Linked DNA regions of Homo sapiens: region 1 is linked to region 2. Evidence: fine-mapped expression QTL. Tissue or cell type: whole blood. Region 2 holds a variant in brackets; the other region holds the start of a gene. All regions are shown on one strand. Distances are from middle to middle.

Region 1 (8,000 bases), 49 kb before region 2:
AGCAGCCCAGCCCACAGAGCGGCGGTCACCAGCCCCAGCAGCACGATCTGAGTCCCACGCCTGCAACACCGCCTCCTGGGAAGCTCCTCGATCTCTGCCGGGGGTGGAGGGACTGACTATGGGTGCAGGGTGAAGCTGGATGCTGGCCCTGTCCGTCTCTCCATTACCCAGAGCCCCCGACAGCCTGGGAGCTTGTCCAGAGCCCACACTGAAGCAAAGGGTCTCAGTGGACCCCCAGCTCCATTTGCACAGCTTCCTTACCTGACTCAGGGCTGGGTCACTGACCACAGAGACAGATCTGGGACTAAGAGCTAAGACTCCCTCAGCCCCAACAACCAATGCCAGGCCCCCAGCTTCACTTCCAGAAGACTAGGTCCTGCTTTTTCCTTCCCCTCTGAGCCCCAACGCCCACCCTTACACCTCTGCACCTGTCCCCAACCTGGAGTCCCTTCCCTAAACCCAGGACACTGAGTCCCAGTTCTTCCCCAACATCGGAGCCACTCCCCAGCCACTTTCCCAGGTGTCATCCAACATCCAGACCTCCAAACCTCTCCCAGACCCCACCCAAAGGTCTATCTGGATGTCCCACCTCAAGCCCCTGGCCCTCTGCACTCACCCTGGCTTGGAGGATTCATTATGCTAAATTCTGCTTGTTCCAAGTTCCTGTTCTATTTGGCCTCTGACTCTATTGGGCTCCCCGCTCCCTAGCTGAAGCCGTTTTTTTTTTTTTTTCTTTTTCTTTTTTTGTCAGGAGGGTGTTGAATCAGAAAAAGGAGGGGCCCTCAATTTGCCACTCCTTCCTGGCTCTGTGCCAGGAAAGTCAGTCCGGCCTCACCTCCTTACTCACACCAGTCCCTTTCTTAGAAATTCACCCTCTTTCCCAGAGAGGGACTGGGGAGCCCCGCTTCTCTTCTGGGTGAAAGGCAGTAGCTAAGGGTCATTGCTTCTGCCAACGTTAGAACCAGAGAGTCCTCCTACCTGAATATTGACCTTCCTCCATGGCGGTCCTGCTTGGATTCTCCCGATGATGGAGCACTCACTCCCTGACAACGCAGTCCACTCAGCGGGCACAATCACAGCTCTGGCTGATTTGGGATTTAATGATGGTTAGGGTGAGCCATCAAATCCTAGTTACCAGCACAGGATAGCATCTGGGACTTGGTGGCACTCAGGGGCCATTTGCTGATTTTGTTTAGTCTACAATCTGGACTCACTAGCGTGGTTAGCAGGGAGACACAGCTGGTGTGGAGAGATAGCAGCCTGAGATCAGAAGTGGGGCACTCCAGAGCCCATCACACTTGAGCTACACAGCAGGTGCACCCATGAGATCTTGACAAATGGCTTAATTAACCTGGAAACTTCTTTCCTCATTCGTAAAATGATGATACCAAGAACACCTATACTGTTGGTTGGTGATCTGTGCTAAAAATATCACCAGCGTTTATTATAATTGCCTTGCCTGTGTGACCTCAGCCAAGGATTCAACCATTCTCAGCCTCAGTTTTCCCCTCTGTAAAATGGGCTGATGACAGCACCCAACTCATGAGGCCAAGATAGGATCCAATGAGATCACAGCATACCTGAGGTTTTTGGTGCCGGGCTGCGCACAGTGGGTCTTCGGATTCTAAACATTTATGAAACATCTACTCTGTGCCACGTCCCACTGAGAAATGCTAAGAGCCCATAACCCAGGCCTCAGCCTTCTCCTCTGCCAATGTCCCCAGGGCATCTGTAAAGTGCTCTGACTTTATTTATTTATTTATTTATTTATTGAAATGGAGTCTCGCTCTGTTGCCCAGGCTGGAGTGCAGGGGCACGATCTCGGCTCACTGCCACCTCCACCTCCTGGGTTCAAGCGATTCTCCCGCCTCAGCCTCCCGAGTAGCTGGGACTATAGGCACGTGCCACCATGACCAGATAATTTTTGTATTTTTAGTAGAGACGGGTTTTCACTATGTTGGCCAGGCTAGTCTCAAACTCCTGACCTCATGATCCGCCCGCCTCGGCCTCCCAAAGTGCTGGGATTACAGGCGTGAGCCACTGTGCATGGCCTATTTTTTTATTTTTTGAGATGGAGTCTCGCTCTGTCACCCAGGCTAGAGTGCAATGGCACCATCTTGGCTCACTGCAACCTCCACCTCCCGGGTTCAAGCGATTCTCCTGTCTTAGCCTCCCAAGTAGCTGGGACTACAGGCACCCACCACCACACCTGGCTAATTTTTGTATTTTAGTAGAGACAGGGTTTCACCATATTGATCAGGCTGGTCTCGAACTCCTGACCACAGGTGATCTGCCCTCCTCAGCCTCCCAAAGTGCTAGGATTACAGGCGTGAGCCACTGCGCCCGACCAAGTCCTCTGACTTTAAAGCATCTACTATGTGCTGAGGAGCATGGGACTTGGGGTCCTTCAGGCCTGGAGGTCACGGGCTACCTTCTTTCGCTGCTTGACTATAGGTAAGTCCCTTCTCTCGGAGCCTCAGGGAGGTGGGGTGTGGCGCGGCCAGGCTCTGATTAGCGGCAGCTCAAGCTGGCCCTTTTGACATTGTGAGAGGAACCCAGAGACCATCCTGGGACTGGAACTGTCCAGGGAGGCAGCTGGACAGACCTGAGTCCGAGTCCTGGCTTCTTCCTGGATGAGCAGCTCAGTTTGCTCATCTGTAAATTGGGAGTATTCAAAGCACCAGCACACAGTAGGTGCTCAGTAAACCTACTGGCAGGATGCTGGGGGACTGTCCTCATTCTGTGGGGCCTCTCTCAGTGGAACTGAGGTTCCAAGAGGGTAAGTCATTTGTCCCCATCACGCAGTGGTGGGACTGGAACTCAAACCCGGGACCCTTGAGCTGGGAGCCCATTTGCTCAATCATCTGGAGACATAATCTCATGGTGGGGTGTCTACTGGTAAGTGCTGGGTGGCAGGATCCCAACTCCAGGCCGTCCTTCTAACCCAAGAGGTCCTGCCTCTGCCTAGAGTCTTCCATGGCTCCCCAGGGCCCTCTATGATCGGCCCAGCGCACTCACCAAGCTCATCTCAGACCAGATGGCCTGCTTTCACTTCCCCAAATCAGGGACTCGAATGCCTCGAGATTCTGTCCACACTGCGGCCCCCACCCCCGCCCCCTCACCACCCACCACCTCCCTTCTCTGGTTGTGACCTCCTGCTGGTCATCCCTTGAGGCTCAGCCCAAGGTCGTTTCTTCCAAGGGCGCTTTGATCTCCACTTCCCATGGCCAACCCCCAACACACCAGATACGTACTCACTTAGTGGAGTTTGGAGCCTGTGTCTGTCCTCCTAGTGTGTTGGGGTCGACCAGAGCGATTGGCAGGGACCGTCAGAGACAGAGGTTTAAGCAGGAAGAGAGACACTTTCTTCTGAAAGTAGAGCCACTGACAGCTTCTATTTTCATAGACCTAAATATGGGCTTGCCACCCGGATAACATTACACGCATGGCCTCTCCTGGTGCTCCCCACACCCGGGTGAAGTCCGTGTTATTATTATCTCCATTTCTCAGGTAAGAGAATTGGGTGAGAACTAGAGATGTTAAGCAGCAAGTTCCCACAGGGCTGAAGGAGGTGAGTGGTAGCGTCAAGATGTGAACCACTGTTACTGCACACTGAATCATACCACTATGGCCGATCACAGAGGGCCCTGGGGAGCCACGGAAGGCTCTAGGCAGAGGCAGGGCCTCTTGGGTTAGAAGGACGGCCTGGAGTTGGGATCCTGCCACCCGGCACTTACCAGCAGACACCCCACCATGAGATTATGTCTCTTGATGATTGAGCAAATAGGCTCCCAGGTCAAATGTCCCAGGTTTGAGTCCCAGCAAGAAAAAAGGGAAGAGGAGAGAGAGGCAGAGGAAGGGGAAAAAAAAGACAGAAGGAAGGAGAGGGAGAAGGAGGAGTAGGAGGGAAGGAGGGAAGCGGGGGGAAAGAAAGATACGTGAGATAATATTCAGGTCAAATATGGACAGTTTTGGCTGGGCACGGTGGCTCACGCCTGTAATCCCAGCACTTTGGGAGGCTGAGGTGGGAGGATCACTTAAGCCTGGGAGTTCAAGACCAGCCTGGACAACATAGCAAGCCGTTGTCTCTACAAAAACTATAAAAACTAGCAGGGCATGGTGGTGCATGCCTGTGATCCCAGCTACTGGGGAGGCAGAGGTGAGTGGATCACTTGAGCCCAGGAGTTCAAGATCAGCCTGGGCAACACAGTGAGATGAAAGAAAGAAAGAGAGAGAGAAAGAGAGAGAGAGAGACCGGGCACAGTGGCTCACGCCTGTAATCCCAGCACTTTGGGAGGCCGAGGCAGGTGGATCATCTGAGGTCAGGAGTTCAAGGCCAACATGGTGAAACCCTGTATCTACTGAAAATACAAAAAAAAAAAAAAAAAAAAAAAAATTAGCTGGGCATGGTGGTGGGCACCTGTAATCCTAGCTACTCGGGAGGCTGAGGCAGGAGAATCGCTTGAATCCGGGAGGCAGAGGTTGCGGTGAGCCGAGATCGCGCCATTGCATTCCAGCCTGGGCAACAAAAGCTAAACTCTGTCTCACAAAAAAAAAAAAGAAAAGAAAAAAGAAAGAAAAACAGAAAAGAAACACCAAACTCCATCCCAGCCCCATCCTGGAACTAAGACTTCATCCCCATGTCCTCACAACATGGCCCAGCTGGACTTATTCCCAAGCTTCCTCCTCCTTCTCCTCGTGTGTCCCCATTGGTGGGACAGTCCGTCCATCCACCCAGACACCCCGGCCCAGGTCCAGGCCTTGTCCAAGCACTTCCCGATCTTCCACCCCACCGCTCACCCAGCACCCGCGCCTGGCTCGTCTCAAAAAAATAACCTGCTTCTCCCCATCCCCACAGCTGCTCCCTCTTCCCCCTGGACCAGGTGACATCCCCCTCTTAGGGTTCCCCCTGCCTGGTTTGCCTTGTCCCTGGGACTGCCTCCTCCATGGCCTCCCCACTCTCATCCTGCCCCCATGACAGCCTTCCCTGGGGCTCTACCTCCTGTCTTGCCCCCCAAAACAGACCCTCCAGGGTCCTCACTCCCACCTGGCCACCACGGCAGACCCCCCCTTAGGATCCCCAACCCGACCTGCCCTCAAGACTAATCCCCCAGTGACCCCACCCTGGCTTGGCCTCAAATGCTGTCCCTATGTCCACTCAGCAGCCCCCAGCCACCTCTCCAATGCTCAGCGGCCAACTCTTTCCCTTCCTTTTTGATTTTTTTTCTTTTTTTGAGACAGAGTCTTGCTGTGTCATCCAGGCTGGAGTACAGTGGCATGATCTCAGCTCCCCATAACCTCTGCCTCCCCGGATTCAAGTGATTCTCCTGCCTCAGCCTCCCAAGTACCTGGGATTACAGGCACGCGCCACTACACCTGGCTAATTTTTTGTATTTGTAGTAGAGATGGGGTTTCACCAAGTTGACCAGGCTGGTCTTGAACTCCTGGTCTCAAGTGATCCACCCACGTCGGCTTCCCGAAGTGTTGGGATTACAGGCATGAGCCACCGCACCCGGACCCTCCCTCACTTCTTTACCATCTTGGTCCTCGGCCATTACCCCAGATCAAGGTGGAGGGGACATTTTGGGACCCAAAATGAACAGCCTCAGACCACCAGAGTCAGTCATTCACTCAACAGGCATGCACCAAGGGTCACTCGGTCCAGGGTGACAGACAAGGCAGCATGGTCCCAGCTGTTCTGGAGTGCAGGGTCCAGGGGACATTTCAGCCAGGCCCCTCCCTGACACAGTGGGAACGTCCAGCCCTAGTGGATGGCCCAGCCCAGCCCCCTCCTGGTTGGGAGGTGGGTTGTAGGGGCACAGGGGGGTGTCTTCTGGAGTGAGAGACATGGGAGGTAGCCCACCCAGGAGTGGGGATTTGGAGTTCCCCAGTTGAGAGTGGGGAGGGTGTTAAGGATCAGGGGACACATTTTGGGAAGGATGAGGAGGGTGGGCAAAGTGCCAAGGGGTCTTAGTATATAGAAGTCTAGGTGGCATAGTGGCTAGGGCTGCAGATGCCTGACCCACACTACCTGTGTTCAAATTCCTGGTTCTTCCATTGAAGTGCTGTGTGACCTTTGGCAAGTCACCTAACCTCTCTGTGCTTCACATAAGGCAGCATTGATCACCAAAGCATCTAATTCCTAGGGTGGTGGTGAAAATTAGATGTGTTAATATGCACACAAGTCACTAAGAACTGTGTCCGGCTGGGCGTGGTGGCTCATACCTGTCATCCCAACACTTTGGGAGGCTGAGGCGAGTAGATCACCTGAGGTCAGGAGTTTGAGACCAGCCTGGCCAACACAGTGAAACCCCGTCTCTACCGAAAAGTGCAAAAATTAGCCAGAAGTGGTTCCAGGTGCCTGTAATCCCAGCTACTCGGGAGGCTGAGGCAGGAGAATTGCTTGAACCTGGGAGGCGGAAGTTGCAGTGAGCTGAGATTGCGCCATTGCACTCCAGCCTGGGCGATCCCAAAAAACAAACAAACAAACAAATTCCTGTGCCCAGCAACCATTGCTACTAAATTAAACTATACAACAAAATTGTCCATATTTTTTTTTAGAGACAGGGTCTCGCTCTGTCTCCCAGGCTGGAGTGCAGTGGTGCGATCTCGGCTCACTGCAGCCTCAACCTCCTGAGGTTCAAGAGATCCTCCTACTTTCTCCTCCTGAGTAGCTGGGACCACAGGCACGCACCACCACGCCTGGTTAATTTTTTAAATTTTTGGTAGCGATGGGGTCTCACTATGTTGCCCAGGCTGGTCTCAAACTCCTGGGCTCAAGTGATCCTCCTGCCTCAGCCTCCCAAAGTGCTGGGATTACAGGCATGAGTCACTGTGCCCAGCTGGAATTTGGTGTTTCTGAGTTCTACAAGCCCAGGTGCCCCAGCCCAACCCCACCGGCCCCATCATGTCCTTCCCAGGGGTGAAAGCCCCCTGCCTGCTGGGTTCCTGCCAAGACTCAGCTCAAACACTAGGATGCTTTGGGGCCCCAAGGACCCAGTCACGGGACTGCCCCACCCGCTTCCCCTCTGCGGTATTAATACGCCTCTTGCTCACTTCGGGGGAAAAACAGAAAATTGTGCGGATGTGGGCCCCAGATCTGTGGGTGTCGGTTCTTCTTTCAGATTTGGGATCCTCTGCATGTTGGGGGAGGCCGCGTCTCGCTCCTCGTTTGACCTAGGTCAGAATTCAACAGGAAGGAGTTTAGGGTGTCCAGCAACAACAACCCTCAACCATCTCCAGCTGAGCTCTCATCCCAGCCCCGGCCCTGACCGTAACCCCAGCTCAACTACAACTTGATCCCCTCACCCCACGATGCTCTGATCCCAGCCCTAACCTCTGCTCTGCACAGGACGGAGGCACGTCCGCGGCTCTAATCACAGAACCCCCACACCTGGGACAGGGCCTGGCGCTGTGTCCCAACGAGATGGAGCCTGGCGACCCTGACTCTAACCCCATCCCGACACAGCCCTGGGCTTTCCTACCTGTTTAACCTCTCCTGGGGTTACGAAGGGGAGAAGGAAAGGGTGCAGGGGTGGGGAGGAAGGGCAGTAGGTGTGTCAAATCCAGGGGGGCTTCCAGGAGGAGGTGTGTTCAAAGCTGGGTCTCTCCCACCCTGCACTGTTGACTTTGGGACTGATGATTCCTCGCTGGGATGCTGTCCTGTGCATTGTTGGATGTTTAGAAGCATCTCTGGCCACTAGTCGCCGAAAGAGTCACCGTGGTTGAGAAGCGCTGCTTTGAAAACATGATTCCTAGATCACGCTTTATTTTGTTTTCATTGTGGCAAAATATACATAACATAAAATTTACCATCGTAGCCATTTCTAAGTGCACCATTCAGGAGCATGAAACACATTCACACTGTTGTGCAACCATTACCACCATCCGTCTCCGGAACTTTCTCATCTTCCCAAACTGAAACCGTGTCCCCATGAAACACTCACTCCCTATTTACCCAACTCCAGCCCCCATGAGAGCTCCCCTTAGGGTCCTCACCC
Region 2 (8,259 bases):
CTACCCTTCAGTAGATCATATGACCTCCATTATACAGATGAGGAAACTGAGGAGGCACTGCAAGTTTAGCTAACTGGCCCAAGGTCACACAGCTGGTAGATGGTGGGGCTGAGACTTGAACCCAGTCTGCCTCCACAGTGCATGCTGTTAACCAAAGAGTGAAATAGTATCAAAGAGGAAAGAAAAGATCCATAGCAGCTTTATTTAGAATGATCTGAAATTGGAACAACCCCGTGTCCACCAGCAGGTGAATGATAAAAAATATAATGGCATATTCAAAGATTGGAATACTATACAGCAATGAAAAAGCAAAGTACTAGTACATTTAATAACATAGATAAATCTCACAAAACAGTAAAAGGACCCAGACAGAGTGAGTACACACTGTAAGATTTGATTTTGTGTGAATTTTGAGAACAGGCAGAACTAACCTTTGAAGGAGACTCAGAATGGGAATTATCAGGAAGGAGCAGGTGGAGATTGACAACGGGGTTTCTGTATGCTGGAAATGTTCTATATTTTGATCATAGAGATGTGCATTTACCACATGTGTGTTAAATCTCAGTTTAAAGATGGAAAATACATACATGTATCATAATCAAATAGTGGTTTTCGACCTGATCTTTACTTTGTATTCTTTTTTAAAATGTTTTAATTTTAGAATAATTTTGGGTTTATAGCAAAGTTGCAAATGTAGGAAAGAGATTTCCCATATGTAAATCCCTCACCTAGGGATCCCTAATGTGAACCCAGTTTCTCCTAATGGTAACATTTCACATGGTAATGAGGTAGGAAACTGGAAGAACTTGTTTTCTGGCCACAACCCTGCAGACCCATACAGAATCTGGTCCAGATGAGATGATGTGAAGAAACCAGCAGGAACCAGCAGATGGCAACAAAAGCAATCCCTGGCTGCCTCATTGCTCGTGGGCATAAGATACTCCCTCCAGTGCCATGACTGTTTACCGATGCCATGGCAATGACCTAGAAGTTCCCACCTGTTTCCATGGAAACAACCTGGACATCTTCGCCCTTTTCCTTAAAACTTCTAAAGAACCTGCTCCTCAATTTGCATTGACCCACCCCTTAACTGACGTATAACTGAAAGTGAGTTGACATGAGTATAACTACAGCTGCCAAGAGCTTGTATGTTGTTGACTCTGGGTGCACTGCCTATGAGTTAGCCCTGCTTCACAAGGAGCAGTATCATTACATAAAAAATATCTGTCTAAGGCCAGGTATGGTGGCTCACGCCTGTAATCCTAACACTTTGGGAGGCTGAGGTGGGCGGATCACAGGGTCAGGAGTTCGAGACCCTCCTGGCTACATGGTGAAACCCCATCTCTTTTAAAAATACAAAAAAAATTAGCCAGGCATGGCACGTGTCTGTAGTCCCAACTACTCAGGGGGCTGAGGCGGAAGAATTGCTTGAACCTGGGAGGCAGAGGTTGCAGTGAGCTGAGACTGTGACAATGCACTCCAGCTTGGGCGAGAGAGTGAGACTCCATCTCAAAAACAAACAAACAAAACCGGTGGCTCACGCCTGTAATCCCAGCACTTTGGGAGGCTGAGGCGGGCAGATCACCTGAGGTCAGGAGTTCGAGACCAGCCTGAGCAACATGGTAAAACCCTGTCTCTACTAAAAATACAAAATTAGCCAGGCATGGTGGCTGATGCCTGTAATCCCAGCTACTCGGGAGGCTGAGGCAGGAGAATCACTTGAACCTGGAAGGCAGAGGTTGCAGTGAGCCGAGACTGCAATACTGCACTCCAGCCTGGGCGACAGAGTGAGACTCCATGTCAAAAACAAACAAACAAACAAACAAAAGGTGGCTCACGCTTGTAATCCCAGCACTTTGGGAGGCCAAGGCAGGCAGATCACCTGAGGTTGGGAGTTCAAGACCAGTCTGACCAACATGGAGAAACCCTGTCTCTACTAAAAATACAAAATTAGCCAGGCATGGTGGCTGATGCCCATAATCCCAGCTACTCAGGAGGCTGAGGCAGGAGAATCGCTTGAACCTGGGAGGCAGAGGTTGCGGTGAGCTAAGATCGTGCCATTGCCTTCCAGCCTGGGCAACAAGAGTGAAACTCTGTCTCAAAAAAAAAAAAAATCTCTGTCTGACATCACTGGCTCACCCTTGAATTCTTTCCAGAGCGAAGCCAAGAACCCTCCCCAGCTAAGCCCCAATTTTGGGGTTCACCTGTCCTGCAACATTTGGTGACCTTGAAGGAACAAAGACAGTGAGCAAGCGGCAGTGACTGGTGCAGCACTGCCGATCTGCCGATGGTGATCGCCAGTGAGACAGTGAGACAGTGGGGATCACTGAAGAATTAGTAAGACAGCAGAGACAGTGGCAATTGGTGATTGGCAGAGAGGTGAAACAGCAAGGGATGGCAAGACAGCAAGACGGCAACTGGTAAGGTGGCAAGAGGCGCCCGTCGGTGATAGGTCAGTGAGACAGAGAGGTGGTGATCAGAGAGTGGTGGAGTGGTGGCAAAGAAAGAAAGACAGAGAGGTGGTATATTAGTCTGTTTTCACGCTGCTTGATGAAGACGTACCTGAAACTGGGCAATTTGTAAGAAAAAGAGGTGCCTTTTGGCCGTAACTGCCATCTTCCAGTAATTTGCCAAAATGATGAACGCAAAGGGGAAGAGGAGAGGCACCCAATATATGTTCTCTAGGCCTTTTAGAAAGCATGGAGTTGTTCCTTTGGCCACGTATATGCGAATTTGTAAGAAAGGTGATATTGTAGACATCAAGGGAATGGGTACTGTTCAAAAAGGAATGGACCACAAGGGTTACCGTGGCAAAACTGGAAGAGTCTACAATGTTACCCAGCATGCTGTTGGCATTGTTGTAAACAAACAAGGGCAAGATTCATGCCGAGAGAATTAATGTGTGCATTGAGCGCATTAAGCATGCTAAGAGCTGAGATAGCTTCCTGAAATGTGTGAAGGAAAATAATCAGAAACAGAAAGAAGCCAAAGAGAAAGGTACCTGGGTTCAACTGAAGCACCAGCCTGCTCCACCCAGAGAAGCATGCTTTGTGAGAACCAATGGGAAGGAGGCTGAGCTGCTGGAAACTCTTCCCTATGAATTCATGGCATCAGAGGTGTTAAAAAAATAAAAGACCTCTGGATTGTGAAAAAAAAAAAAAAAAGAAAAGAAAAGAAAAGAAAGAAAGAAAGAAAAAGAGGTTTAATGGGCGGTTCCACATGGCTAGGGAGGCCTCACAATCAGGTGGAAGGCAAAAGGTAAGTCTTACATGGCAGCAGAC[C/A]AGAGCGAATGAGACAGCCAAGCAAAAGGGGTTTCCCCTTATAAAACCATCGGGTCTCATGAGACTGACTCACTACCACGAAAACAGTGTGGAGGAAACTGCACCCATGATTCAATTATCTCCCACTGGGTTCCTCCCACAACACGAGGGAATTATGGGAGCTACGATTCAAGGTGAGATTTGGGTAGGGACACACCCAAACGATATCAGATGGTGATCAGCGGTCAGCAGGATGATGATTGGTGAGACGGAGAGGCAGCAGTTGACGAGAGACAGCAAGACAGCCATCAGCACTACGGTAATCAAAGCTGCAGAGCTGTAACACTAACCAAGGACTCTTTGAAGAACCATCATCTTCCCTAGCAGGCAATGGAGCTGAGCAGATGAACATTCGGCTGTAGTGCCATGTGATGTGGGACCAGCCACTCTGACCAGCAGGCCAATAGGCTACTGGTCCCCTGTGACAGCTGAGCTGGCCCAAGCTGGGAAACCTGGGCACCTGGCCTTGGTGGAGAAGACCTTCACCCAGGCCCTAAGTTGGAGACCAGTCAGTGCCATTTTGGCTCCTGGGGACAGGTGAGTGTCCCCTCTGCCCCCGCCTCCACAGTATTGTGTGAGCCAGGAAATAAGACTTTTGGCTAGATAGTCAATTCAAAGTCCCCTGTAGCACATCTGACCAACTACGTTCTTTTTTTTTTTTCTTTTTTTGAGGCGGAGTCTTGCTCTGTCGCCCAGGCTGGAGTGCAGTGGCGCGATCTCGGCTCACTGCAAGCTCCGCCTCCCGGGTTCACACCATTCTCCTGCCTCAGCCTCCCCAGTAACTAGGACTACAGGCGCCTGCCACCACGCCTGGCTAATTTTTTGTATTTTCAGTAGAGACGGGGTTTCACCGTGTTAGCCAGGATGGTCTCGATCTCCTGACCTGGTGATCCACCGGCCTCGGCCTCCCAAAGTGCTGGGATTACAGGCGTGAGCCACTGCGCCCAGCCCAACTACATTCTTATTACCCCTTTTCTTGGTCCTTCCTCCTCTAATGTCATTTTATTTTTCCATCAGCCGTTTATTTTATTTCATCTTGAAATGTATGTTTTGTTTACAGTTTTAGTTTTTTTGTTTTTGTTTATCATATGATATTACTTATCATGGATATTACTTATTACTTATCATCAGCCAAGCTTGATAACTTAGCTGAGGTACTGTTTGTCATGTTTCTCCCTATACAACATTATGATCAAATAAAGTTTTTTTGACAAACACATGGATGGCATCAGAAAATCTATTAATAATAGCATACCATCCGGGCACTGTGGCTCACATCTGTAATCCCAGCGCTTTAGGAGGCTGAGGTGAATGGATCACCTAAGGTCAGGAGTTCAAGACCAGCCTAGCTAACATGGTGAAACCCTATCTCTACTAAAAACACAAAATTAGCCAACACGGTGGCACATGCCTATAATCCCAGCTACTTGGGAGGCTGAGGCAGGAGAATCGCTTAAACCCGAAAGGCAGAGGTTGCAGTGAGCCGAGATTGTGCCATTGCACTCCAATTTGGGCTACAGAGTGAGACTCCATCTCAAATAATAATAATAATAATAAATCAAATAAACAATTTAAAGTAGAAAACCTACATATCACAGTAGATCAAATAAAAGGGTTCAATAAAACTCAACAGTGACTCATGATTTACATTTTTAAGTCTTCATCAACTAAGAGTAGAAGGAAATATCCTTAACATGGTTGTGGTATCCATCAAACCCACAGCAAACACCATTTCTACTGGAGAAACTTTAGAAGCATTCCCATTGAAATCAAGACAAATGAAAAGAAAATCCACAAACTTGCAAAAATATTTGCAAGACATATATAAAGAAATCATCCAGCCTGGGCAGCACCGTGAGATCTTGTCTCTACAAATAATTTAAAAATTTAGCCAAGCGTGGTGGTGCACACCTGTAGTCCCAGCTACTTGGGCAGCTGAGGTGGGAGATTGCTTAAGCTCAGGAGGTCAAGGCTGCAGTGAGCTATGATAGTGCCAGTGAGCTTCAGCCTGGGAAACAGAGCAAGACCCAATCTCAAAAGAAAAAAGAGACTCATATTCAAAGTAAGTAAAGAACTCCTAAAACCCAACAGTAAGAAAACAACAAACCTAGTTTAAAGATGAGCAAAAGTACAGATCAACAATGGAAAAACAACCCAATTAAAAATGGGCAAAGGACTTGACTAAACATTTTTCCAAAGAAGATATACAAGTGGCCAACGAGCACGTGAAAAGATGCTCGACATCACTAATCATTCAGGAAATGCAAATTAAAACCACAATGAGATACCACCTAACACCCACTAGGATGACTACTACAAAAAATAATAACGTGGCCGGGCACAGTGGCTCACGTCTGTAATCCCAGCACTCTGGGGGCCGAGGCGGGCAGATCATGAGGTCAGGAGATCGAGACCATCCTGGCTAACACGGTGAAACCCCGTCTCTACTAAAAATACAAAAAAATTAGCCGGGTGTGGTGGCGGGTGCCTGTAGTCCCAGCTACTCGGGAGGCTGAGGCAGGAGAATAGTGTGAACCCAGGAGGCAGAGCTTGCAGTGAGCCAAGATCATGCCACTGCACTCCAGCCTGGGCGACAGAGTGAGATTCCATCTCAAAAACAATAATAATAATAATAATATAATAACATAACAAATAATGGCAAAGATGTGGAGAAACTGGAACTCTTGTGCATTGTTGGTGGGAATGTAAAATGGTGCGGTCACCACAGAAAACAGTATGGCAGTTCCTAAAAAATAGAAATAAAAATTTCATTACATATAATCCAGCAATCCCACTTCTGGGTGTATACTCAAAACAATTGAAAGCAAGGACTGTTTTCTGTTTTATGGTGTAATTGTCTAGTTTTAGTCTTGGCGTAATGTGGGCCTGGTAGAATGAGTTAGGAAGAATTCCTTCCTCTTCAATTTTTTGGATTAGTTTGAGAATTTATGTTAGTTCTTTGTAAGTTTGGTAGAATTTAGCAGTGAAGTCATCCAGCCCTGGGCATTTCTTTGTTGGGAGGCATTTTACTTTGATTCAATCTCATTACTCATTATTGTTCTGTTTCAGGTTTTCTATTTCTTCCTGTTTCAATCTTGGTAGGTTGTCCAGGAATTTATCCATTTCCTCTAGGTCTTCTAATTTGGTTAGCATATAGTTGTTCATAATAGTCTCTGATGATTTTTTTTCTGTGTATTTCTGTGGTTTCAATCGTAATCTCTCCTTTTCAGTTCTGATTTTGTTTATTTGGGCCTTATCTCTTTTTTTCTTGGTTAGTCTAGATAGTGGTTTATCAATTTTGATTATCTTTTAAAAAAATTTCCTTTTGCTGATCCTCTGTTTTTGTTTTTGTTTTTGTTTTTAGTCTTTATTTCATTTAGTTCTGTTCTGGTTTGTGTTATTTCCTTCCATCTAATTTTGGGTTTGGTTTGGTTTTACATTCCTAGTTCCTTGAGGTGTATTCCTAGGTTGTTTATTTGAAATCTTTCTACTTTTTTGATGTAGGCATTTTGTGTGTTTTTTTGTTTTTAAGACGGCATCTCACTATGTTGCCTAGGCTGGTCTTGAACTCCTGGGCTCAAGCAAGCCTCTCACCTTGGCCTCCCAAGGTGCTGGGATTACTGGCATGAGCCACCGCACCCGGCCCTGATGTAGGCATTTATTGCTTTAAACTTTCCTTTTAGTGTTGCTTTTATTGTATCCCACAGATTTTGGTATGCTCTGTGTCCATTTTGATTTGTTTCAAGAATTTTTTTTATTTCTTTCTTAAGGTCTTCATTGACCCAGTGGTTGTTCAGGAGCATATGGTTTAATTTCCATGTATTTGTACAGTTTTCAGAGTTCCTCTTGTTATTAATTTGTAGTTTTACTCCATTGTGGTCTGAGAAGATATTTGATATAATTCTGATTTTGTAAAAAATGTGTTGTGGCCCAACATGTGATCTATTCTGGAGTATGTTCCATGTGCTGATGAGAAGAATGTGTGTGCTGCAGCTGTTGGATGAAATATTCTGCAAATATCTGTTAGGTCCATTTGGGCTAAATTGTAGTTTAAATCTGATGTTTCTTTGTTGATTTTTCTGTCTAGATTATCTGTCTCGTGCTGAGAGTGGGGTGTTGAAGCCCCAAACTATTATTGTATTGAAGTCTATCTCTCCCTGTAGATCTAATAAGATTTCCTTTATATATCTGGGGCTTTGGTGTTGGGTACACATATATTTAAAATTGTTATATCCTCTTGCTGAATCAATCCCTTTATCATTATATAATGACCTTCTTTGCCTATTTTTACTGTCTTTGACTTAAAGTCTGTTTTATCTGATATCAGTGTAGCTACTCCTGCTCACTTTTTGTTTCCATTTGTTAGAATTTCTTTTATCATCCTTTCACTTTTAGTCTATATGTGTTTTTTTTTTTAAGAGATGGGGTCTCACTCTGTTGCCTAGGCTGGAGTGCAGTGGCTATTCCCAGACACAATCAGCTCATTGCACCCTCAAAACCCTGGGCTCAAGCAATCCTCCTGCCTCAGCTCCTTGAGTAGTTTGGACTATAGACACATGCTATCATACCTGGCTAGCTTTACAAAAATTTTTTTAGAGATGCAGTCTTACCATGTGGCCCAGACAGGTCTCAAACTCCTGACCTCAAGCAATCATCCTTCTTCAGCCTCCTCCTGAGTATATATACGTGTCTTTACAGGTGAAGTGAGTTTCTTATAGACAGCATATAGTTGGGTCTTTTTAAAAAATTCATTCAGCCAGTCTATATCTTTTAAGTGGGAAATTTAATCCATTTACATTACAGGTTATTACTAATGTCTGAGGACTTATTCCTTTCCTTTTGTTAATTGTTTCCTGGTTGGTTTGCATATCTTTTGTTCCTTTCTTTCTCTCTTATTGTTTGTCGTTGTGGTTTGGTTGTTTTCTGTAGTGGTAACATT

Evidence for each region. PIP is the estimated chance that this variant, and not a neighbour inherited with it, causes the effect.
Region 1: it holds the start of FCER2, and the variant in region 2 is fine-mapped to the expression of FCER2 in whole blood (TOPMed, PIP above 0.99).

Annotation. Positions count from the first base shown.
Region 1 is chr19:7,698,761-7,706,760 of GRCh38, forward strand. It overlaps FCER2 (Fc epsilon receptor II), which reads right to left and starts at 3,371. Exons shown (of 11, transcript NM_001220500.2): 1 at 3,255-3,371; 2 at 979-1,085; 3 at 1-94. The coding sequence starts at 1,000. It overlaps LOC105372262 (a long non-coding RNA gene), which reads right to left. Exons shown (of 5, transcript XR_936296.2): 2 at 7,485-7,734; 3 at 7,057-7,176; 4 at 6,032-6,142; 5 at 4,320-4,361. RefSeq lists enhancers at 1,085-1,154, 3,258-3,367, 6,736-6,805.
Region 2 is chr19:7,748,049-7,756,307 of GRCh38, forward strand. It overlaps the pseudogene RPL21P129. Among named protein-coding and RNA genes, the nearest start is that of CD209, 4.6 kb to the left of the region's middle. RefSeq lists promoters at 1-791, 1-504, 1-571, 1-1,118, 1-738 and 1 more, a cis regulatory region at 334, an enhancer at 554-1,055 and a silencer at 835-1,129. The variant C/A (reference allele first, on the strand shown) is at 3,282.